3 separate regions of the Homo sapiens genome follow, and regions 1 and 2 are each linked to region 3. The links come from fine-mapping of genetic effects on gene expression. A gene starts in region 3. Each other region holds a variant in brackets. All regions are shown on one strand. Distances are from middle to middle.

What was found.
Region 1: its variant is fine-mapped to the expression of KCND1 in whole blood (GTEx, PIP 0.97).
Region 2: its variant is fine-mapped to the expression of KCND1 in prefrontal cortex (GTEx, PIP above 0.99).

What each region holds. Positions count from the first base shown.
Region 1 is chrX:49,754,669-49,762,849 of GRCh38, reverse strand. No RefSeq gene overlaps it. Among named protein-coding and RNA genes, the nearest start is that of PAGE1, 63 kb to the right of the region's middle. The variant C/A (reference allele first, on the strand shown) is at 3,402.
Region 2 is chrX:48,448,287-48,456,467 of GRCh38, reverse strand. It overlaps the pseudogene LOC791096. Among named protein-coding and RNA genes, the nearest start is that of SLC38A5, 18 kb to the left of the region's middle. The variant A/G (reference allele first, on the strand shown) is at 3,218.
Region 3 is chrX:48,967,080-48,975,260 of GRCh38, reverse strand. KCND1 (potassium voltage-gated channel subfamily D member 1) reads left to right here and starts at 3,417. Exons shown (of 6, transcript NM_004979.6): 1 at 3,417-6,110; 2 at 8,155-8,181. The coding sequence starts at 4,990. It overlaps GRIPAP1 (GRIP1 associated protein 1), which reads left to right. Exons shown (of 26, transcript NM_020137.5): 25 at 1-106; 26 at 976-1,538. The coding sequence ends at 1,068.

The DNA.
Region 1 (8,181 bases), 790 kb before region 3:
AATTTTAGCCACTGGTGAAAATTGAAAGGATCATGTTCTGAGCTGCAACGTTGTTGATTTCATAATATTTCCCATCCCTCTGGAAACTCCAGAAAACTAAGTTACTATTCCCCCTTCCACCGAAAGTAAGAAAAATCAGAACCACTGAGATGAAACATCACACCACCCAGTTGGGAAGGTAACCTCAGGAAGTTTCTCCAGAATTCAGTACAAACATTTCAGATTTAATACTTTGCTAATGGGACATTATTGTGTTTCACACAATGAGTGGTGTAATGATGAATTACAGCTGCGGGACTGACTGCCCTCTGCTCAAACCCTTTCAGAAGGAGTACTGTGGGGCCTCCTTCTGGTCACAATGTAGGATATTGGAATTCATTCCTAGAGTTTGAGGACACCTGTTGAGACAGAGAGAAAGAGAGAGAGAGAGACAGAGAGAGGAGGAGAGAGAAAGAGAGAGAAGGAAAGAGAGAGAAACAGAGAGACAGAAGGAGAGAGAAAAACAGGAGAGAGAGAAAGAAAAAGAAAGAAAGGAAAAGAAAGAAAGAAAAGAAATGGAAAGAAAGAAGAGAAAGAGGAATGGAGGCAGACACCTTCCATCTGCAGTGCCCCAAGCGCTTATCATTGGTTTGGACACAGAGCAAGCATAAGTGTTTATTAAGACTTGGCCACTGAGGGCAGAGAGAAGTGAACTGGAGATGGGAATGGAGGGCAAGATGCAGGAGGTGCAGCAGGGCAAAGAAAATTAACTTCTCCCTTTCTTAAATTTAGCCCCAAGAGGGCTCCACTAACTTAAACCTATTTCAGTCTTATGAGAAATTTCTATTTCATTCTAATCATGACAGACCACTATACAAACTCAAATTGAGGGACTGCCTACAAAACACCTGACCACTAAAATGTCAAGGTCATGGAAAACAAGAAAAGACCGAGGAGCTGTCACAGACTGGAGACATGATGTGACTAAGATGATAAATACCATGGGGAATCCTGAATGGATCCTGGAAAAACTGATGAAATCTGAATAACTTTTATAGTTTGGTTAATAATATTGTATCAAGATTAATGCGTCACATTTGATAAATATTTTCTGGTTATATAAGATAAGGTTTCCTTCTAGACCCTCTCTTTCCTGTCAGCTTCTACATTCCTCTGAGAGCTCAACAGTGACTCTTAGAGGCCTCTAGCCGCAATAACAGCAAATCAGTTCAGCAATCTGAAAGAATGAGCCATTTGGACCTGCATTTTCCAAATTATTGAAACAAACTCTTTTGGCAGGCACTATTTTTAGAAAAGTAGTATTCATTTCTCTGCCATCTTATAAAGAGCATGGAAATCACCACTTAATTCTTCATTGTCCATACCTATTAGTATAAACATCTGCTTTTGGGCCAAGTGCAATGTCTCACACCTGCAATCCCAGCACTTTGGGAGGCTGAGGTGGAGGATCACTTAAGACCAGAAGTTCATCCTCAGATGCCCATCCAGAGAAGGGGAGCTGGTGCTATTCAATGGGCTCCAGATGGAAATGTGCCTGAGCTGCAGACTTCAGGGGAATACTTGAATAAGTTCAGTGAATTTTTGTCCTTCTCTTCATAGAAAGCTTGACTTGCTTTGTCATGTTTCCACGTGTAACCAAAGCCAGATGAAGAAATACAGACACTCTACCATACAAACTCTGTAACCTACACATCCAAATTGAGTAAAACCAAAGACTGCAGCTGGGGCCGCCAAGAAGCTGCAGGAAGAAGTAAGCAAGCAGGACCTCAGCAGGCAAATTTACTGGGGTCAGGAGCACAGGCTTGAGATAGGGCATCCCCAGCCCCCACCCCACTAAAAGACACCAGGTCCAGGAGATCTTAGGGCTATGCTTCTCAGCACCACGTGGTTGGCTCAACTCCTTTGCCCTGGCTGCAATGCCACCACATTACTGGCCCACATCCATGTGACGCTAAGGCAGAAAGATGGAATGTAAAGGGTATGGGATTTGGATACAGACAGACCTGGATTTGCGTTTTAACTCTTCCATGTATGCGCTGCTGCGCTTTATGCAAGTTACTGAACAGCTCTGTGCCTCGGTCTCCTCATTAACATGAAGATGATAGTGCTACTCTGCCACAGGGTTATTGTGAGGATTAAAGATAAGGCACACAAAGCTCTCAATAACAGTGCGTAGGACATAGTAGTCATGGCAACCAATAAATGGTAGCTGTTTTTCTCTGTTCTGTGTGAAAAAAGCTGGACACAAAAGGTCACATATTGTATGATTTCATTTATATGAAATGTCCAGAACAGATAAATCCATAGAGACAGAAAGTAGATTAGTGGTTGCCAAGGGCTGAGTGGAGGGTGACTGCTAATGGATACAGAGTTTCTTTTAGGGGTGATGAAAATGTTCTAAAATTAGACAGTGGTGATGGCTGTGCAACATAGTGGACATACAAAAATCACTGAATTGTACAAAGTATACAGTTGTAAATTTTATGGCGATGTGTATTATTTCTTAATCAAATAATAATTAAAATGATTAACAAGGTAAGTTTTATGGTATGTGAATTACGTCTTAACTAGAATTTTTAAATGACCTATACTTGTTTGTGAATATGAATAGAAATAAATATTTCTAAAATGTGGATAATAGTAGTACCTGACTCATAGGGTTTTTGTGAAAATGAGTTGATTTTTAAAAAATATTTAGACTAATGCTGACACACTATAAAAGCTCAATAAATGTCAGTTATAATTATTACTGTTATTGTCATTGTCATGGTCATCATCATTTTCATCACAGGGAGCATAGTTTAATAGTCAAGATCAATGGGGTTTGAGTTAAACAGACCTGGTTTAAAATCTGATTTCATACTTGGCAGTATATATTATAATAATTAATGATGTAGCTACTGGCTTCAGACTATCTTCATCAAAATCCTCACTCCACCATTTACCATTTGATTTTAGGCAAGTCTTCATCTTCAACCCCTCTGTGCCTCAGTTTCTTCATCTGTAAAATGGGGGTGATAATAGTTCATACCTAATGTCATGCCATGAAAATCGATTGATGTATCCATTAGAATGCTGATATGATTTGGCTCTGTGTCCCCACCCAAATCTCAAGTTGAATTGTAATTCCCAGTATTGGGGAGGGACCTGGTGGGAGGTGATTAGATCATGGGGGCGGATTTCCCCCTTGCTGTTCTCTTGATAGTGAGTTCTCATGAGATCTGATGGTTTAAAAGCGTGTAGTGCTTCCCCCTTCGCTCTCTGTTCCTCCTGCTCTGCCATGTGAAGAAGGTGCTTGCTTCTCCTTCAACTTCTGCCATGATTGTAAGCTTCCTGAGGCCTTCCCAGCCATGCTTCCTGTCCAGCCTGTGGAACTGTGAGTTCATTAAACCTCTTTTCTT[C/A]ATAAATTACCCAGTCTCAGGTAGTTCTTTATAGCAGTGTGGGAACAGACTAATACAGGTGCTTTTGGCTTCAGGTTTCAGAAACCTGGCTCAATTCGTCTGAAACCAAATAGGAAAAAAAGAAGGGATAGGAAAGAGAAAATAATTAATTGAGAAAACACAATACAAATCAAGAAGGGAAGGAGAAAGAAAAAGAAAGGAGAGAGAAAGACAGAGAAGGGTTTAGAGAGGTTTATTTTCAGTAGCCATTAGTTTTGGGATGCTTCCCAGAGACTTCTCTGCCCAAATTTTCTTCCTGGGTTTCTAAGATTATTCTTCTTATGTTTTTAGTATAAACTGCTTCAAACTCTTTTGGTAATAGGCAGGCACTAAATAAAACAATACTACCTTGCCTTATAGGCTTGTTGTTATCTCTGCTCTCTAGGAGTATAAATCTCATGGAGAAGACTGTGCAAAAAAAATTTTTTTTTTTGAGACAGAGTTTCACTCTTGTTGCCCAGGCTGGAGTGCAATGGTGCAATCTTGGCTCACTGCAACCTCCACCTCCTGGGTTCAAGCGATTCTCCTGCTTCAGCCTCCCAAGTAGCTAGGACTATAGGCATGCACCACCATGCCCGGCTAATTTTTATTTTTAGTAGAGACAGGGTTTCGCCATTTTGCATAGACTGGTCTCAAACTCCTGCTTCAGCCTCCCGAGTAGCTGGGATTACAGGCGCCCGCCACCACACCCAGCTAATTTTTTTTGTATTTTTAGTAGAGACAGGGTTTCATCATGTTGGCCAGGCTGGTATCGAACTCCTGACCTCAGGTGAGCCGCCCGCCTCAGCCTCCCAAAGTGTTGGGATTACAGGCGTGAGCCACTGCGGCTGGCACAAAATATTTTAACAATGTAACATTTCTGCCCAGTCAATGGGATCATTCGGAAAGGCATTTTGCTTCTTTTTTCTTTTTTAAGCAACAGGGTCTTGCTCTGTCATCCAGGCTGGAGCACAGTGGTACGATCATAGCTCACTACAGCCTCAACCTCTTGGGCTCAAGGGATTCTCTCACCTCAGCCTCCCAAGTAGCTGGGACTACAGGCACATGCCACCAAGCCCAGCTAATTTTTCTATTTTTTGTAGAGATTGGATCTCACTATACTGTCCAGACTGGTCTCAAACTCTTGGCCTCAAGCCATCCTCCTACCTTGGCCTCCCAGAGTGCTGGAATTGCAGGTGTGAGCCACCTCGCCCAGGATAGAATGGCATTTTGAGTAGGCCAATATGTGCAGACATATGCCCTAAAAGGTTTGGTTTCATTGAAGTAATACAGCAGGAAGCCAGGAACCAAAGCCTTGAATCAGAGATGAGATTCCATCTCTGGGCCTTTCATAACCATGCATGGCTCCAAATTCCCCATCACCAAAACAGAAAATTAAAGCAGAATGTACTCTCCAGGTGGCCCTCTAAGTAGGAAATAAAATCTTATCACCCTACTTATGATTATAGAATCAAAGATTGGATGGGTCTTTAGGAAAGATGAACTTATTTTCCAGATATGCAGACAGGGACCCTGAAACTCAGCGAGGGCAGCAGACCGGCTGGGTTCCAACAGGGTTGAACCTACTTTCTAGCCTTGTATTCTACTGTGATATAATACAGACTGATGAATTTGTTTCTCTTTGTCTCTTTCTGACCATCAAAGCAACTGATTTCTACATGAGAGAAGAATATACATGCTGAGAGAAGAGGATCACCTGGAGATATGTACCAATTCTGTGTCCCAGTGAGAAATTTACAAGTATCTGTATAGCTCTTAATGTAGAGATTGGTACTTATCTAACAATGGAAGTTCAAGTTTCTAACTGCTTTCCTTTTGGCCTAATTTGATAAGGATCAGATTAGCAAATCAGAGCAAAGGTGAGATGGGGATGTAAATATTCATTGGCTTCTGACATTTCTAAGCAAGAAAGCCAAGGACTTCTACCAAGCCTGGAGATTGTTTCTCTTAAGATGCCGGGAGGGTATGCTAGTCCAGGCTCCAAGAAACACTGACCCATGTGCCATTTTGAAAAGCCCATCAGATCCACACAATCACAGTAAGAGAAGAACGTTTATTTCTATCCCCTTTGGCTACTGCCTCATTTCCATTCAACCTAGAAAGAGGTAAAAAAAAAAAAAAAAAAAAAAAAAAAATCGGCTATGCTGTGATCTCACTGCGTTGAGTATGGTAGCTTTCACAGGAGTCTTTACCTTATTAAGATGGGTCGGGTAAGGATTGAAATTATCCCAGCTTTCCTCTCTATCACACATTCAATTCAACACTGTGATGAGTTTTCATAAAGGTTTTATAATTCTCAGTGGTATGGTGAATAGCCTTTGGCCTTTAAATCAAATGACAGAAAAAAGTTTCTTCAGGCAGAAAAAATGAAGATTCTATTTCTGTTCCTAGATTTAGTTATCAGTCACCTGGTTTCACATTAAACTTTGATGATAAGTTATTCAATAGCCATGATATCAGAAGTTCTGCTGGCCAGAACAAACTGCCAGTAACTACTCGCATGACTGAGAAAGCACTGCTTCTCATTTCCCCTTTCTTTTGCCCAGGAGATTGTGGTTGTGATCTCCCAGTCCTGCTGGCTCCAATGCCTGCCTGCCTGCCGTTTTTCTTCCTTCCTTCCTAACCAAGTTCTATCTTCCTAATAAGAATACACTAGCATTCCATTAAGAGAGCCAGACAGAGAGAGAGTGAGAGGTAGAGAGAGAAAGAGAGAGGAAGGTTACCAGATTAAAGTTTTTATCAGACGATATCTCCCAAGCAACCTAAAGCTTTTAGTCTGTCAGTCCCTTCCTCACATCTCCAAAGGGCCAGGAGGGAAGGAAGCCCTTCCTACAGCATATTGTGGAACTGGCCCAGCCCAATGCACTTTTAATTCCTCAGGAATAGCATCACTGTCCCCGTTGTTTCCCTGGGAGGTCATTCTACTGCCTATAGCTTCCACTCTACTATGGAATTAATTGTTTCTCCACCAAATTCATAAGTTGAAACCCTAATCCCCAATACGACTGTATTTGGAGATAGGGTTTACAAGGAGGTAATTAAGGTTAAATGAAGTCATACAGTTATTTAACCTCAATTAAATCAGGGCAGGTCCTTAAAAGAAGAGATAACAGAGCTCTTCTTCTTGCTCTTCTTCTTTCTTTTTCCTTTTCTTATTTTTCTTTTTTCTTTCTTTTTTTGTTTTTTTCATTCTTTTTCTTCTTTGCTCACAAAGAAGAGACTATATGAGGACACAGCAAGAAAGCAGCCATCTGTGAGCCAAGATTGGAACCCTCACCAGAACCAAATCAGCCAGCACCTTGATCTTGGACTTCCAGCCTCCAGAACATGAGAGGATAAATGTCTGTTGTTTAAGCCACCTAGTCTGTGATATTTTGTTATGGAAGCCTGAGCAAACTAAGACACACTTCAATTCCTTTCTGCCCATTTCCTTCTCTGTAGTGCCTTCTTACTGCCTGCAAATTACTCTTTGGGGACTTACAGTCCTGAAGCAGAGGCACATTCCCACTTCTCCTAAACAGCAGCTTCCCTGAGCTACACATATTAAATTCTTTTAAGCTCACCTCATTTTTTCAATGATTTTTAAGGCTCTTCTCCATACTTTGTCCAATTTCAAGTAGTACATTACTTATATGGATGACAAATTTCAACTCCATAAACCATCTTGCATGAACAACTACAAGATATAAAAACTCAAACACTCACTGTATCCTCCAGTATGAGTGCATTTGTGCATATGTGCACATAACGCTGGTTTGTTATATATATTTCATGAGTGTCTTAGTCTGTTTTCTGCTGCTATAACAGAATACCACAGACTAGGTAATTTATAAAGAATAGAAGTTTATTTTGCTTATGGTTCCAGAGGCTGGGAAGTCCAAGAGGCTGGTGCTAGCATCTGGTGAAGGCCTTCATGCTTTGTTATCCCACAGCAGAAGGCAGAGGTGAAACCAGTGCTCAAGGCAGAGGGAGGCACCAGGGGCTGAACTCACTTTATAACAACCCACTGTCATAATAACTGACCTGCTTCCATGATAATGACATTAATCTAGTCATGAGAGCAGAGCCAATCACCTCTTATCAGGTCCCAACTCCCAACACTCCTGCATTGGGAATTAAGTTTCCAACACATGAATTTTGAGGGGGACACATTCAAACCATAGCAAAGGGTAAAGGTAAAACATTATGGCCATTTAGGTTTCCTTGATTCTACCCAATTATAAATACCAAGAGAAACCTGAGTTCCACTTCCCCAATCTCATCCAAATATTTCTCTTCAATGAGATTTTGAAAACCTATCCAGGGATTGGTTAAAGATGGCAAAATATAAAAGAAATCAACTTCCTGCATATTTCCAATGGTGAATTTGTTCCATTAAAAGGCGTCAAATGGGAGCATGTACAGGATGATTATTTCTCAGAGTCCTGTGGGAGAAAGCAAGCTGGGGATTCTGTTCATGTTTCCTGCATTTGGACAGAGGCCCTGCTGGTAAGTTCCTCTGCAAGAGATGAACAGAATCCAGTGTTATCTAAATGTCAGACGGGATCATTCTAGAGAGTAGCCCCTTAAACTCTCTAAGAAGAGGAGGTTAAATTCTCTGTCAAAACTTCCATACATTCCACTCCCTCTTCCTCAAAGGAAACCTCAGAGCTGAGGTACCAAAGTGACAGCAAACAAACAGAAGGCCATAAATGCTACCTGCTTCTGTAGCACTGCAGTTTGTGCATAGACAATGAGCCAC
Region 2 (8,181 bases), 520 kb after region 3:
GGGACTACAGGCATGCGCCACTATGCCTGGATAATTTTTAAAATTTTCAGTAGAAATGAGATCTCTCTATGTTGCCTAGGCTGGTCTCAAACTCTTGGGCTCAAGTGATCCTCCCACCTTGGCCTCCCAAAGTGCTCGGATTACAGGCATGAGCCGTATTTATGAAATAAGGTTTTTTTTTTTTTTTTTTGGCAGGGTTTCACTGTCATCCAGCCTGGAGTACAGTAGTGAGATCACAGCTCACTGCAACCTCAACTTCCCGGGTTCAAGTGATTCTCTTACCTCAGCCTCCCAAGTAGCTGGGACCACAGGCATATGCCACCACACCCGGCTTATTTTATTTTATTTTATTTTATTTTATTTTATTTTTTAGATGAAGTCTTGCTCTTGTCTCCCAGGCTGGAGTGCAATGGCACGATCTCGGATCAGTGCAACCTCTGTTCCCCGGGTTCAAGTGATTCTCTTGCCTCAGCCTCCCGAGTAGCTGGGACTACAGATGTGTGCCACCACACCTGGCTAATTTTTTGTATTTTTAGTAGAAACGGGGTTTCACCATGTTAGTCAGGATGGTCTCGATCTCCCGACCTCGTGATCCACCTCCCGACCTCGTGATCCGCCTGCCTCAGCCTCCCAAAGTGCTAGGATTACAGGTGTGAGCCACTGCGCCCGGCCTTTTTTGTATTTTTTTGTAGAGACGGGGTCTCACCATGTTGCCCAAGCTGGTCTCGAATTCCTGGGCTCAAGTGATCCACCCATCTCGGCCTCCCAAATTGCTGAGATTATAGGCATGAAGCACCGCACCCAGCCTGAAGGAAGCTTTTAGATGTTTGAGAGACATTTGCTTATCCTCCCAGATAATTTTTACGCATTTATAAGCTACTACACATATATATTATTTCCCTGCTTCTATTTACAAATAGGGCAGTTGTCTGTAGTTGATTAATACTATATGCTCCTTGTTTCACTGTTCTTTATCCCTTACTGCCACTAAACTTAAGCTCAACAAGCCATTCTTTTTGAGAATAACGGTAGCCTGAAATTCCAGCACCTGGCCTTCAAACTGCAAGTCTTGGCTGGGCACGATGACTCATGCTTGTAATCCCAGCACTTTGGGAGGCCAAGGCAAGAGGATGACTTGAGGCCAGGAATTTGAGACCAACCTGGGCAACATAATGAGATCCTGTCCCTAAGTTTTTTTTTTAATTAGCTGGGCATGGTGGTGTGCACCTGCAGTCTCAGCTACTCAGGGAGGCTGGGGTGGGAGAATTGCTTGAACTAAGGAGTTCAAGGCTGCAGTGAGCTGGATTGGACCATTGCACTCCAGCCTGGGCAACAGAGTGAGACCTTGTTTCAAAAACAAAAAAAAAAAACAAAAAAAACAAACAACAACAACAACAACCCCCCCCCACCAGAAACCTCATACCCATTAATAGTAACTCCCCACTCCGCCCAGCCTTTGGGAACCATGAATCTACTTTCTGTCCCTACGGATTTGCCTATTCTTGGCATTCATATAAGTGGAATCATACACTGTGGTCTTTTGTGTCTGGCTTCTTTCACTTAGCATATTTTCAAGGTTTATGCATGCCACAGCATGTATCAGTACTTCATTAAATCTTCCGATCCATGAAAAATGGGCTATCTTTCCATTTATTTAGGTCTTTAATTTCCTTCAGCAATGTTTTGTAGTTTTCAGTGCAGAAGTCTTACACTTCCTTGGGATGCAAGTCCTACTTAGGGGATTTTAGTAGTCTTTTGGTGCTGCTATGATAGAATACCTCAGACTGGGTAATTTGTATAGAACAGACATTTATTTTCTCACAGTTCTGGAGGCTGGAAAGTCCAAGATCAAGGCACCAGCATCTGGTCAGCGCTTTTTGCTGCATTCTCATATGGCAGAAGGCAGAAGGACATGAGAGAAGCAACTCCCTCCATCTCATTTATAAGGACACCTAATCTCATTAGGGAGAACCCCTCATGGCCTAGTCACTTCTTAAAGACCCTATCTCTTAATACTGTCACATTGACAACACCTGAGTTTTGGAGGGGACACATTCAGACCATACTAGGGATTAAAAATAACATCTTAATTTTTAGCAATCTAGTTCAGATTGATACCAACTTAATTTCAATACTATACAAAACATTGCTCTTATATAGCTTTGTCCACTCCCTTTACTGCCACTAAACTTAAGCTCAACAAACCATTCTTTTTGATAATAATGGTAACCTGAAATTCCAGCACCTGGCCTTAAAACTGCAAGTCTTGACTCATGCCTATAATCTGGGCACTTTGGGAGGCTAAGGAGGATGACTTGAGGCCAGGAATTTGAGACCAACCTGGGCAACATAGTGAGATCCTGTCTCTACACAATATTTATTTATTTATTTATTATTTATTTATTTATTTATCTATTTATTTAGAGACAGAGTCTTGCTTTGTTGCTCAGGCTGGAGTGCAATGGCACGATTTTGGCACACTGCAACCTCTGCCTCCCGGGTTCAAGCGATTTTCCTGTTTCAGCCTCCTGAGTAGCTGGGACTACAGGCATGCGCCACCGTGCCCAGCTAATTTTTGTATTTTTAGTAGAGACAGGGTTTCACCATGTTGGCCAGGCTGGTTTCAAACTCCTGACCTCAGGTGATCCGCCTGCCTTGGCCTCCCAAAGTGCTGAGATTACAGGTGTGAGCCACCGCGCCCAGCCCCAATTTTTTTTTTTTAATTAGTCGGGCATGGTGGTTTGCACCTGCAGTCCCAGCTACTCAGGGAGGCTGAGGTGGGAGAGTTGTTTGAACCTAGGAGTTCAGGGCTGCAGTGAGCTGTGATTGCACCACTCACTCCAGCCTGGGCAACAGAGTGAGACCTTGTCTCAAAAAGAAAAAAAAGCAAGTCTTCATATTTAACAGAAAGAACCCCAAAAAGAGATGAGGGCAATGTCCCTACTCCTAGCATCAGCAGAAGATGAATTTTTCATTTTGATTATTACACTTTTAAACTCCAGAAATTTCTATTTGGTTCATTTTTTATATTTCTATGTCTGTATTGATACTCTCTATTTGGTGAGATATTGTTTCTATACTTTAGTTCTTTAGACATAGTTTCTTTGAGGTTTTTGGACGTATTTTAAATAGCTCATTTAAAGTCTTTTTATTAGAAAACCCAGCATCTGGCTGGGCGTGGTGGCTCACACCTGTAATCCCAGCACTTTGGGAGGAC[A/G]AGGCAGGTGGATCACTTGAGGTCAGGAGTTCAAGACCAGCCTGGCCAATATGGTGAAACCCTGTCTCTACTAAAAATACAAAAAGTAGCCAGGTGTGGTAGTGGGTGCCTGTAGTCCCAACTACTTGGGAGGCTGAGGCAGTAGAATTGCTTGAGTCTGGGAGGCAGAGGTTGCAGTGAGCCGAGATTGCACCACTGCACCCCAGCCGGGGCGACAGAGCAAAACTCTGTCTCAAAATAAATAAATAAATAAAATAAAATACATTAAGAAAAAAGGAAAACCCAACATCTGGGCTTTCTCAGGGATGGTTTCTATAGGTGGTCTTTTTTCTTTATTCTGTGGATGGGTCGTATTTTCTTCTTTCTTTGCAGGTGTCATAATTTTTTATTGAAAACTGGACATTTCAAATAATATAATGTGGCAACTCTGGAAACCAGATTCTGTCCCTTCCCTGGGGTTTCTTGTTGCTGTTTTGTTTGTTTGTTTTCAATGTTTGTTTAGGCTGAGCTCGGTGGCTCATGCCTGTAATCCAAGCACTTTGGGAGGCCAAGGCAGGAGGATCATTTGAGCCTAGGAGTTTGAGACCAGCTCGGGCAACATAGTGAGACCCCGTCTCTTAAAAAAGAAAAAAAAATTGGCCGAGCGCGGTGGCTCACGCCTGTAATCCCAGCACTTTGGGAGGCCGAGGCAGGTGGATCGTGAGGTCAGGAGATTGAGACCATCCTGGCTAACACGGTGAAACCCCGTCTCTACTAAAAATACAAAAAAATTAGCCAGGCGTGGTGGCGGGCCCCTGCAGTCCCAGCTACTCGGGAGGCTGAGACAGGAGAATGGTGTGAACCCGGGAGGCGGAGCTTGCAGTGAGCTGAGATCGCACCACTGCACTCCAGCCTGGGCGACAGAGTGAGACTCCATCTCAAAAAATAAATAAATAAATAAATAAATTAAATTAGCTTGGTGTGGTGGCGCATGCCTATAGTCCCAGCTACTCAGAGGCTGATGCTGGAGGATTGCTTGAGCCTGGGAGATCAAGGCTGCAGTGAGCCGTGTTAGTGCCACTGTACTCCAGCCTGAGAGACAGAGCAAGACCCTGTCTCAAAACACAAGTTTGTCTAGTTTTTTTCCTGAACAAATTCTGTAGTCTCTATTCCTTGTCCTCTGTGGCCACTGAAGTCTCTTGGTTAGCTTAGTGGCCACTAATGATTGAACAGAAATTTCTTTAAATGCCTGGAACCAGTATGTCTCCCAGTCTTTGCCAAGGGGATTTGTGTATGTGTTGGGACATACCTTCTGCACTCAGCCTGGCAGTTTACAACGTTGCCTTATCTTTCTCTTCCTGCTTGCTCAGAGCCTCGAGGTCTGCAGAGGTGAGAGATTAAAGCCTACTTAGTTCTTCTGTGGGCATTCGCCTAGCTGCAGCCCAGGGCGTATGTGTGTGGCCTTCTAGATTCCCAGGCATGTGTTGGAGTTATTCAAGCCCCATTTTCCAGCCTTTCCTTCTTCTTCTTCTTCTTCTTTTTTTTTTTTTTTTTGAGATAGAGTCTTGCTCTGTTGCCAGGCTGGAGTGCAGTGACGCGATCTCGGCTCACTGCAACCTCTGCCTCCTGGATTCAAGCAATTCTCCTGCCTCAGCCTCCTGAGTAGCTAAGATTACAGGTGCACACCACCACACCTAGCTAATTTTTGTATTTTTAGTAGAGATGGGGTGTCTAGTAGAGACCATGTTGGCCAGGATGGTCTCGATCCCTTGACCTCGTGATCCACCTGCCTCAGCCTCCCAAAGTGCTGGGATTACAGGCATGAGCCACCATGCCTGGCCTCCAGCCTTTCCTTTTAAGCTTGCTGGTTGATGTATTGTTTGCCTCAACTGCTATTCACTACCCCAGGTTGTAGCATCAGTTTGAGTGAGGTCAAATGAAGACAAGCCTTTCAAGTGGGTTCTTCCAGGGAACCACCAGACAAGTCAAAACAAACAACTGTAATTCTTTGTGAATAAGGTCCATTCTTTTCTCTCTGGTACTGGTACCTGTACTGGGAATGCAGATCATTATCTTCAGGGCTACCACCAAGCTGGGAGCAGGAGATGGGACAAGGGTAAGTTAAAATACCACAAAGCTTACTGTTCTTATGGAGATTCAGCTGGTTTTTCTCCTTCCTTCCTTCCTTTCTTTCTTCCTTCCTTCCTTCTTTCCTTCCTTCCTTCCTTCTTTCCTTCCTTCCTTCCTTCCTTCCTTCCTTCCTTCCTTCCTTCCTTCCTTCCTTCCTTCTTTTTCTTCCTTTTTCTTTTTTGACAGTCTTGCTCTGTTGCCCAGGCTGGAGTGCAGTGGTGCCATCTCAGCTCACTGCAACCTCCACTTCCCAGGTTCAAGCAATTCTCGTGTCTCAGCCTCCTGAGTAGCTGAGATTACAGGCACGTGCCACCACGCCTGGCTAATTTTTGTATTTTTAGTAGAGACGGGGTTTCACCATGTTGGCCAGGCTGGTCTCGAACTCCTGACCTCAGGTGATCTGCCTGCCTTGGCCTCCCGAAGTGCTGGATTACAGGCGTGAGCCACTCAGCTGGTTTTTCTTGATTAAACATTCCTCTGCTTGTTACAAGCTTTCGGTTAGTTTTCAAAGTTCTGAAAAAGTTGATCCTGACAGTTTTTGCCAGTTTTTTCACTGATTTTTATAGAGGCATAGATTTTTGGAGTTCTCTATTCCACCATTTACTTTGTGTTAGCAACATTAAACATTTTAAACATCATTACTTGACATTAAAAGGTTTAAATTTGATGATAACTTTAGTTTCCATTTTCACATGTCCTTTGATTACTTTAACTCTAATCTCCTTCTCTTTCAGTGTTTGTGTTGTTGTGGCCTAGAACTTTATTTTTGTTGCTTTTTCTTTCTTTTTCCACATGTTCTAATGTGGCCTAGTATTTTAGTACCACTTCAAATTTATGATCCCCAAATGCTCCCAATCAATATTTTTCCAAATGACATCATCTTTATGAACACTGGATTATAATTAAACTACATTAAAGCAGCATGTGTTTTAGTGAATAATTCCTTAAATAATAAAGTAATAGGTCTGGGTGAGCTCACATAAGGAGCATTGATGCTTTTTACCAAAGCTGGAAAATTCTCAGCCATTATTCCTTTGAACATTGTTCTCCATAAATCTTTCTATTCTCCCTTTCTAGAATTTGTGTTCAATATATGTGAGCTCTTTTCATTCTATCCTCCATATCTTTATATTTTCCATTTCTTTTTTGTTTTTTTTTTTTTTGACACGGAGTTTCACTCTTGTCCAGGCTGGAGTGCAATGACACAATCTCGGCTCACTGCAACCTCCACCTCCCAGGTTCAAACAATTCTCGTGCCTCAGCCTCCTGAGTAACTGGGATTACAGGCATGCATCACCATGCCTGGCTAAGTTTTGTATTTTTAGTAGAGATGGGGTTTCACCATGTTGGTCAGGCTGGTCTCGAATGCCTGACCTCAGGTGATCCACCCGCCTCAGCCTCCCAAAGTGCTGGGATTACAGGCTTGAGCCACCATGCCTGGCCTATTTTCTGTTTCTTTATCTCTAATGGTGTGTTTTCCTCAGAGCTATATTTTCGTTCGCTAATTATTTCTTCGTTTGTGTCTAATCTGCAGTTTAATAAGTTTATTAATTATTTAAATCACCATTTTCACTTCTAGAAGTTGTATTTGGTTATTGTGCAGGTGTTCAGATAAGCCTGTTGTTTCTCATCCTGATCTTTCATTAAGAAATGTATTTTTAGCTTGGGCAATATAGTAAGACCCCATCTCTAAAAAAAAAAAAATAGGTGGGTATGGTGGCATGTGCCTGTAGTCCTAGCTACTTGGGAGGCTGAGGCAGGAGGATTGCTTGAGCCCAGGAGTTTGAGGCTGCAGTGAGCTATAATTGCCCCACTGCACTCCAGCCTGGATGACAGGGCGAGACCCTGTCTCAAAAAAAATTGTATGTTTTTCCCTTTTTACTTGGGAATAATATAGATTTATGGGAAATTGCAAAAATAGTACAGATATGTCCCATATACCCTTTACTGAGTTTCCTCTATATTATAGTAGTGTAAAAATACTATAGTACAATATCAAAATCAGGAAATTGACATTGGAGCAATAGTGTGTATGCCTTTTTATCCCATGTGTAGACTCCTGTAACCAACACCGTAATCAAGATACAGAACATGGCTGTGCTTTGTAGACAGTGTGTGTCCCGGGTGGTCCTCAGGCACTGTCAGGAGATTTTGGACTCTCTGAAGATCATCCTTGGATCTTGGGTTAAAAATCTGTATTCTAGTCTGAACCATGGGAAGAAAAAAATAGTCGATCTGTGGTTTTTCTACTTGAAGGACACAATGTTTTCCAAACTAGCACCTTTGCAGAGGTTTGCTGTACTTAGTCGTGGAGCTCATTCTTCAGTGGCTTCTGCTACATCTGTTGCAACTAAAAAAAAAAAATCCAGACCGGGTGTGGTGGCTCACGCCTGTAATCCCAGCAATTTGGGAGGCCAAGGCTGGTGGATCACCTGAGGTTGGGAGTTCGAGACCAGCCTGGCCAACATGGAGAAACCCCATCTCTACTAAAAATACAAAATTAGCCCGGCACAGTGGTGCATGCCTGTAATCCCAGCTACTTGGGAGGCTGAGGCAGGAGAATTGCTTGAAACCGGGAGGCAGAGGTTGCAGTGAGCTGAGATTGTGCCACTGCACTCCAGCCTGGGCAACAAGAGCAAAACTCCATCTCAAAACAAAAAACAAACAAACAAAAAAAACCCGAAGAAAACAGTCCAAGGCCCTCCAACCTCTGACTACATTTTTGAAAGGGAATCTAAGTGTGGTGCGCACAATTACCATCCTTTACCTGTAGCCCTGGAGAGAGGAAAATGTATTTACTTATGGGATGTAGAAGGCAGAAAATATTTTGACTTTCTGAGTTCTTACAGTGCTGT
Region 3 (8,181 bases):
CCTGAGAGACCTAGTGAAGCCAGGTGACGAGAACCTTCGGGAGATGAACAAGAAGCTGCAGAACATGCTGGAGGAGCAGCTCACCAAGAATATGCACTTGCACAAGGCAAGTGTGGCCTGCCAGCCTACCCATCTGTTCACCCAGCCACCTGCCTACCCAGCCACATAGCCCCTGGGTCATCTGCCAGTCCCCTTGCCCACCCACCCAGCCTGTCCTCCCAGCTATCCTCCTACCCACTCATCAACTACTCCATCATGCTCTCATCTTCCACCCTCTCATCAACTTATTATCCATTCATTCCTTCCATGTACCCGCTCATCCATTTATCTACACATTCACCCAACCATTTGCCCATCTGTCCATCTACCCAATCTACTACTTACTTATCTCATTGTCTACCCCATGTCCTGCCACCCATTTCTTGACATATCATTCTCTTATCTACTCATCAATTGCCCCTTGTGTTACCTTTCACCCACCCAGTTACCTGCCTGCCCACCTGTTGATCTCCATCTGTCCTCTGGACAATTCATTCGTCCACCAATTTGTCTACCATAGATCCCCCATGCCCATGGGTCCACACACACATCTTTCTGCCCAAACTGCCACCCAAGGACTTTCCCCATCTCTGAGAGTTAGAAAGGGGTCAGACCCAGCTCCTGCCTTTGAGAAGCAAGCTCACACTTAGAAGAGCAGGTGGCCAGAGTGGTGGTGTATCCTGCAGCAGCACCATGCCACAGGAGGCATCCCACTCCCATTATCTGTAGCTCCCCACCCATCCTCATGACTTTTCTGAGCCCTGCCCACTGTTGGGGGTGCTGTGAGCTTCTCCAAGTACCTTCTCATCCCAGGCCAGACACAGCTGAGCATTGATTAATGAAAGGGTGTGAGGGAAATCACAGATGATACCCTACGTTTGGCAAGGGAGCAGCCTGTCCCCTTCTCTGGCCCCTGATGGTTCATTTGTTTCTTAGGATATGGAAGTTCTGTCCCAGGAAATTGTGCGGCTCAGCAAGGAGTGCGTGGGGCCTCCTGACCCAGACCTAGAGCCAGGAGAAACCAGCTAAAGACCTGCAGGCTGCACCCACCTCCTCCCCTTCCTACCCCCTAGGATGCTATTCCCTTGGGCTGTGGTGGAAAAATGAGGGCTGGAGCCAAAATCAAATAGCTTGGGAGACTGGACATTAAAGGGGCTAGAGGCCTGATGGTTAGTGTTAATGATCCTGTCTTAGGGCAGAGGCCACCAGGGAGTGGGGATCCTGAGGGAAGGGGCAGGGATTTCTCCTTCTTCTTGGTCCTGGCTCCCAAGGGCTTCTGTCTTCATCTCTGCATGAGCTCTCCTTCCCAGAGACCAACTCTTTTTATTTTATTTTATTTTATTTTTTAATTTATGTCTGGAGCCTGGCTACTCTGCATTTGGGATTGGGGATGCTGGGTGGGTGTGTGGTCCATGTTCAGCGTTCTAGCAACACGTGTGTGTGTGTGTGTGTAAAGGCTATGCAGCCAAAATACCATCTGGCCAGACGGGCCCACCCACTGACTGTCTCGTCTCGTTCTTTTCAACCAGGAGGAATATGCTGGGGGCGGGGAGGTTTACACCATTGGAATAGGGAGAGAGGTCTCTGGCTGCAACGTTACTCTCTTTTCCCCACCCTCATCCAGCCTGTCTCCATTTACTGCTGACCAGCCCCTCAAACTGAGTGGAGCTGAAATACCTGCAGATATGTACATGGGTAGACATGTATGGGATTGTGGGTATAGATGAGTAGACAGATGGGAGGATGGATAAGTGGTTGGATGGACCGATGGATGTATAAGTGAACGGTTGCATGGACTGATGATGGATAGATTGGGAAATAAATGGATGGATGGATAGGTGGTTAGATGAATAAATGGGTAGATAGATTGGTAGGTGGATAGAGGATGGATAGTAGAGATGTAAATGGACAGATGGATAATAGGTCTATGGACAAATGGGTGGATGATTTAGGTAGACAGGTGGATGGATGGGTTTATGGACAGGTTAGGAGTAAATGGACCAATGGTTGGGGGAATGGATGGATGGGTAGATGAGCTAATGAATGGGAAGGGTAAAGAGTGGGAGAAGAAATGACAAGTGGAGCTATGTATGGACAGAGATGGGCAGAGGATGTCACCCTGCATGTGTTCCGGGTGGGAAGAGATGGGCAGAGGATGGATACATACAGATAGATTGGCAAACAGCCAAATGGGGTGAACTTACAAATGGATGAATGAGTGGGTGGGTAGATTAACGACTAAGTGGACGGGTGGGTGGAGGGATGGATAGAGGAATTGATTGTGTGGGTGGGAGAATGGGTGGATGGGTAGGTGGAGGAATGGATGTAGAAATGGACAAATCAGGAGTGTGCCAAATGGGCAATTGGAAGTTTACACGGGTGGGTAAATCTTGGGTGAAAGGCTAGGCCTGGCCCTGCATTACAGTGCCCCTGTCATCACACTCCTTTAATTAAGATTAAGCATCCCTGGTGTGAGCTGTGTCCAGTGCTATCACCTTTCACATCATGTAATGCTCCAAATGACGCTATCAAGTTGGGATAAGTCTCTCCATCTGACAACTGAGGAAACAATGCAAGTCACTTGCTCAAGGATGCAGCAAGTCAGTGGCAAAGCTGGGGTTTGAACCCACCCATAGCCAGCCAGAGGCATTCCATAATCAGTGCTCCTGCCATCCAGAAGCAGAGCCCTCTAGCGGAGGAGGTGTGATTTGAGGCCACTGGATATGGACAGATAAGAGAGACTACCCCCTCGGAGTGGGGCCTGCCTGAGATGGTAGGGGGGTGGGACCTGGATTGTCCCCCTCTACATTCCCTTTACCCTCATTTCATATCTAAAAACAGGAAGTCCCGTGCTCCAATCCCACAGCCGAAGTCTTAGAGCTGGGGCTGTAACCCATGCTGCGCCCCTCAAGGGGGCGGCTTCGGAAGCTTGGCCATCTAGAGAAACACTCCCCAGCAATTACCCCCGACTCCTGGCTCTCCTGCCTTTCCACAGTCTGGGGGGCAGGGAGGGGACAGCGCTGCATCATTCCCTGTGGCACTCCGCTCTGGGGCCATTAACAGACGCCTTCCCATCGATCGGATCTGCTAAGTGCTGCTGATTCAGGCGAGTGGGGGTGGGGGCCCCTGGGGGCAGAGCGGGTAGGAGCTGGGCAGGAAGAGAGGGGAGTCCAGGAAGGAGGTGGAGAGAATTGGCGAAGTTCCCTGCCACCCCCATTTTCCAGATGACGCGACTGAGGCCCAACCAGCTTTGTAGGAGGCGGAGTCTCCCCAGGGTCCCTCTCTGGCTGTCCTAGGGGAGGGGGCTCAGGGAGCCACGAGGCCCCTCCCTGCCTCTCCATCTCCCGGCAAGCTCAGAGGGGCGGGGAGAGAGAGCCAGAGGAGGAGGAGAACTCAGGCAGCTCTGCAGAGGGGGCCAGGAGCTCGGGTGTTTGGTACCCCCAGCCCCACCGCTGTTGCTGCTCCTGCAGCGGGGACACAGGTGAGGACGCCCCGAGAGAGAGGGGGAGGGGGACCACCACTAGCGCTGTCCTCATCCTTCCCTGGTCCAGCCCCCACGCCCTAACCCATCCTGGGATAGTCCCCAGGGGTCCCACTGGACCTTGCCCTTCCCAGGCCTCCTTCCAGGGACCCCGCACCCTCCCCCTGCCTATGCCACCTTCTCTCCTATGCCTGGCTGTGGTTGCTTCTCTTCCTCCTGCTGCCGCTGCTGCTACTGCCACTGCCCAGTACACACCGCCAGCCCCTCGGGGTGTGGTTTCCCCAGACCTGCCCCCAACGGTGGGACCCAGCCTTCTCCCGGCGTCTCCTGCCAGCTTCCTGCAAAGCCCAGGAGCCCCCCTCCCTGGAGACACACCCAACTCCCTTTCAACACCCCACCCCCCTCTTAATCCCATTTTGGGGTTAACCCCCTTCCTCTTATTTAGTCTTCATAGATCCCCTGGGTGCTCTGGGATTGTGCCCAACTTCCTAACATTTGAGTCCCGGCCCTTGGAATTCCCCAGGCCCCTTTTTCCTCCCTGTAGAACTCCTGAGAGTGTCGACCAGGCTTTGTTGGCCCGTCTAGATACCCACCTCCCCCAGATAACTCTCAGCCTCTCAAAAAATAACCCAGCCCCCTGTCTACCCCTTTAGATAACCCCTTCCCCTCTCCAGCCCTACTAGGAGGCTCTGGCCTCTCCTTTCTTCCCCAGAACTCCTGTAGAGTATAGACACCCCCCCGGGCTATTCTTGGCAACTCTAGGCAGTCCCAAGACACCTTTCAGCCTCTTTACAACCTCCTGGATCCACAGCCACCCCTCAAGATGCACCAGCTCCCTTTCCAGATCCATGAGGGGGGTCTAACCCTCTTATGCTTCCCCTAGAAGTCTTGAGGGTGTGGACAACCCTCCTCACCTGTCTCAGCCCCTCTAGAACCCCCACTTCCAGGCACTCTCAGTCTCTTTCAAGCACCTCTGGTCCCATTTCTACCCCTCTGGATGCCCCAGTCTCCTCTCCACCACTGCAAAGGAATTCCAGGCTCTTCTGCCTTCCCTGAGACTCTTGAGAGTGCAGAGAATTCCCCACGTGTTTCTTGGCCCCTCTAGACGCCCCCAGACACCTCTCAGGCACAGGCTGACTCCTTTAGAATCATCTCAGTCTCTCTAAACCCTCCCTCAGCTCCTTCTTGGCCCCATCCCCACACCCCTTTTCTGCTCTTCTCCATGTCCCCAAGGCCCTTCTCAGTCCCTCAGAACATTGCCCAGGCCCCTCCTAGGTTCTGTAAATGTCCCCCAGACTCCTTCCCATCTCTTTAGTTCTTCCTCCTGGTTCCTCTTGGCCTCTCTAGACACCCCCAGTTTCCTTGTTTGGGTGGCTCAAGGTGTCTCCAAGCCCCCACCATCCTGGAGACAGCCACATTCTCCTAAACGCCACCCTCACTAAGTCTCCCTGGGCTTGGGGAGTGGCACGATGGCGGCAGGCCTGGCCACGTGGCTGCCTTTTGCTCGGGCAGCAGCAGTGGGCTGGCTGCCCCTGGCCCAGCAACCCCTGCCCCCGGCACCGGGGGTGAAGGCATCTCGAGGAGATGAGGTTCTGGTGGTGAACGTGAGCGGACGGCGCTTTGAGACTTGGAAGAATACGCTGGACCGCTACCCAGACACCTTGCTGGGCAGCTCGGAGAAGGAATTCTTCTACGATGCTGACTCAGGCGAGTACTTCTTCGATCGCGACCCTGACATGTTCCGCCATGTGCTGAACTTCTACCGAACGGGGCGGCTGCATTGCCCACGGCAGGAGTGCATCCAGGCCTTCGACGAAGAGCTGGCTTTCTACGGCCTGGTTCCCGAGCTAGTCGGTGACTGCTGCCTTGAAGAGTATCGGGACCGAAAGAAGGAGAATGCCGAGCGCCTGGCAGAGGATGAGGAGGCAGAGCAGGCCGGGGACGGCCCAGCCCTGCCAGCAGGCAGCTCCCTGCGGCAGCGGCTCTGGCGGGCCTTCGAGAATCCACACACGAGCACCGCAGCCCTCGTTTTCTACTATGTGACCGGCTTCTTCATCGCCGTGTCGGTCATCGCCAATGTGGTGGAGACCATCCCATGCCGCGGCTCTGCACGCAGGTCCTCAAGGGAGCAGCCCTGTGGCGAACGCTTCCCACAGGCCTTTTTCTGCATGGACACAGCCTGTGTACTCATATTCACAGGTGAATACCTCCTGCGGCTGTTTGCCGCCCCCAGCCGTTGCCGCTTCCTGCGGAGTGTCATGAGCCTCATCGACGTGGTGGCCATCCTGCCCTACTACATTGGGCTTTTGGTGCCCAAGAACGACGATGTCTCTGGCGCCTTTGTCACCCTGCGTGTGTTCCGGGTGTTTCGCATCTTCAAGTTCTCCAGGCACTCACAGGGCTTGAGGATTCTGGGCTACACACTCAAGAGCTGTGCCTCTGAGCTGGGCTTTCTCCTCTTTTCCCTAACCATGGCCATCATCATCTTTGCCACTGTCATGTTTTATGCTGAGAAGGGCACAAACAAGACCAACTTTACAAGCATCCCTGCGGCCTTCTGGTATACCATTGTCACCATGACCACGCTTGGGTGAGTGTGGACTCTGCGTTGGGGGCTGCCCGATTACACTCACCCTTTCTGTAAAATTAGGAAGTTTAAAGGAATGATCTCTTTCTTTCTTTCTTTTTAAATGGAGTCTTACTCTGTCGCCCAGGCTGGAGTACAGTGGCAAGATCTCAGCTCACTACAACCTCTGCTTCCTGGGTTCAAGTGATTCTCCAGCCTCAGACTCCCAAGTAGCTGGGATTACAGGTACACGCCACCATGCCCAGCTAATTTTTGTATTTTTAGTAGAGACGGGGTTTCACCGCGTTGGCCAGGCTGGTCTCAAACTCCTGACCTCAGGTGATCCGCCCGCCTTGGCCGCCCAAAGTGCCGGGATTACAGGTGTGAGCCACCGCGCCTGGCCTCTTTCTCTTTTTGAGCTTCAGTTTGCTCATCTGTACAAACTGAGGGAGCTGGACTTAATTCTTCAGATCCCTCCCAGCTCTGACAATGCCTTGATTTTCTAGGTCAGGAGACTTGGGTTCAAGGATTGTCTTAGCTGCTCTCTTTCTGTTGATGTCGTTTTCTCATGGCCTCAGTTTTCCCCTCTGTAAAATGGGAAATGCTGATCCCTTCATCATCTAGAGAGGATTCAATGACATCATAGTTGTGAAAGTTCTCTGAATGTTTCTGGTGCAGGATACATAGGTGTTGGCTTTCTAGCACCTTTTTCTGTTTTGGGGACCCATGTCTCCCAACCTTCTAGAATTGTCTGCTGTGTGGGGCACTACTTCTGAGCCTTTGTGATTCCTTGATGTTTCCCAGAACAAGATGTTTTCAGCATTTTTATTATTATTATTTTTTTGTCGATCCCTGCAGAAGAAACAGAGTTGGGATAAAAGTATCAAATGGAATCATCGAACTCATGAGCTTTCCAAAGATACTGTCTAGGGCAGATGCTGTGATCCTTCTCTAAGTTTCCATCACTGGGATTGGGTATACAGTTGGTGCTCAGTATCTGTTGAAGGAATGACTGAATGAATTGGGTTTGCTCAGTTTCTTCATAGAGGTACAAAAAAAAGTTGATTTGGGGTTTCTAAAGCGTAGAAACCCCAATTCTGGTTGGAGGTCCAGGATCAGACTGACAAACAAATACTGAGCGCTGACAGTGGGCTGGAACTGAGTATTTTGATGGCTTTTACTCTATTCAAGTCCTCACAACAACTCTGTGATGGTGGATGGCTGCCCATGTCTCACAGTTGAGGACACGCTCTGAGATGACACATCACAGAGCCAGCAATGGCCAAGTTGGAAAGACTTTTGAGCAGAGTCCTGAATGCTTAAAATGAGTGAAAATACCGAAATAAGGAACAGCCATCCTAGGGCACAGCCTGAGAAAAGGCTTAGAGGCTGAAGACTGCAGAGGCTGTGTTTCTCTGGAGGAGTTCTGATTGGTTCTGCGGTCAGAACAAGAGTATGCAGTGTGATCTTGGGCGAGTCAGTTACAGAATCTCCCTGATCTTCAGGGGAGCTCTCTGTGAACAAGTTAGTAAGGTTGGCTCTGCTCTGTCTCTGTGGGAGGTGGGTGGCATGGAGAAAGGCAGGAGGGTTTCAAGGCTCCTCCCTGTTTTGTCATATGTGGACAGTTTTCAAGGATTCCCCTATAGGGGAATGAAAAGGGGTCCTACCTAGAGCAGGTAAGACAGAGGCAGCCAAAACCAACAAAACACTCCTCCCGGGACTTGAAGCCCTTCGGCTGGCCTGTGGTGCTGGGACTCTCTCCCCAGGAGGCTGTGTTCACTGCCTGTGACTTCCTCATGCTCCCCTCTGCTTGGTTTTCATAGATTTCTAGCTGACTCAGGTGCTTGGTATGTAGCTTGGACAGGGGCAGCAGATGGTAGGGGTTGAGGGCCAGGCCCATTTCTCACTTGGCCACCCAGCATTTTACAGAGCAAGAAACTGAGGGACTCAGAAGGTTTGAGTGCCTGGCCAGGGTCACAGAGCTAGTCCGGATTAGATGGGATGGAGTGGGGGACTGAAAGGTAGGTGGGCACTTTTCCTGACCTTGGCCTACCTCCCCTCGCTCCAGCTACGGAGACATGGTGCCCAGCACCAT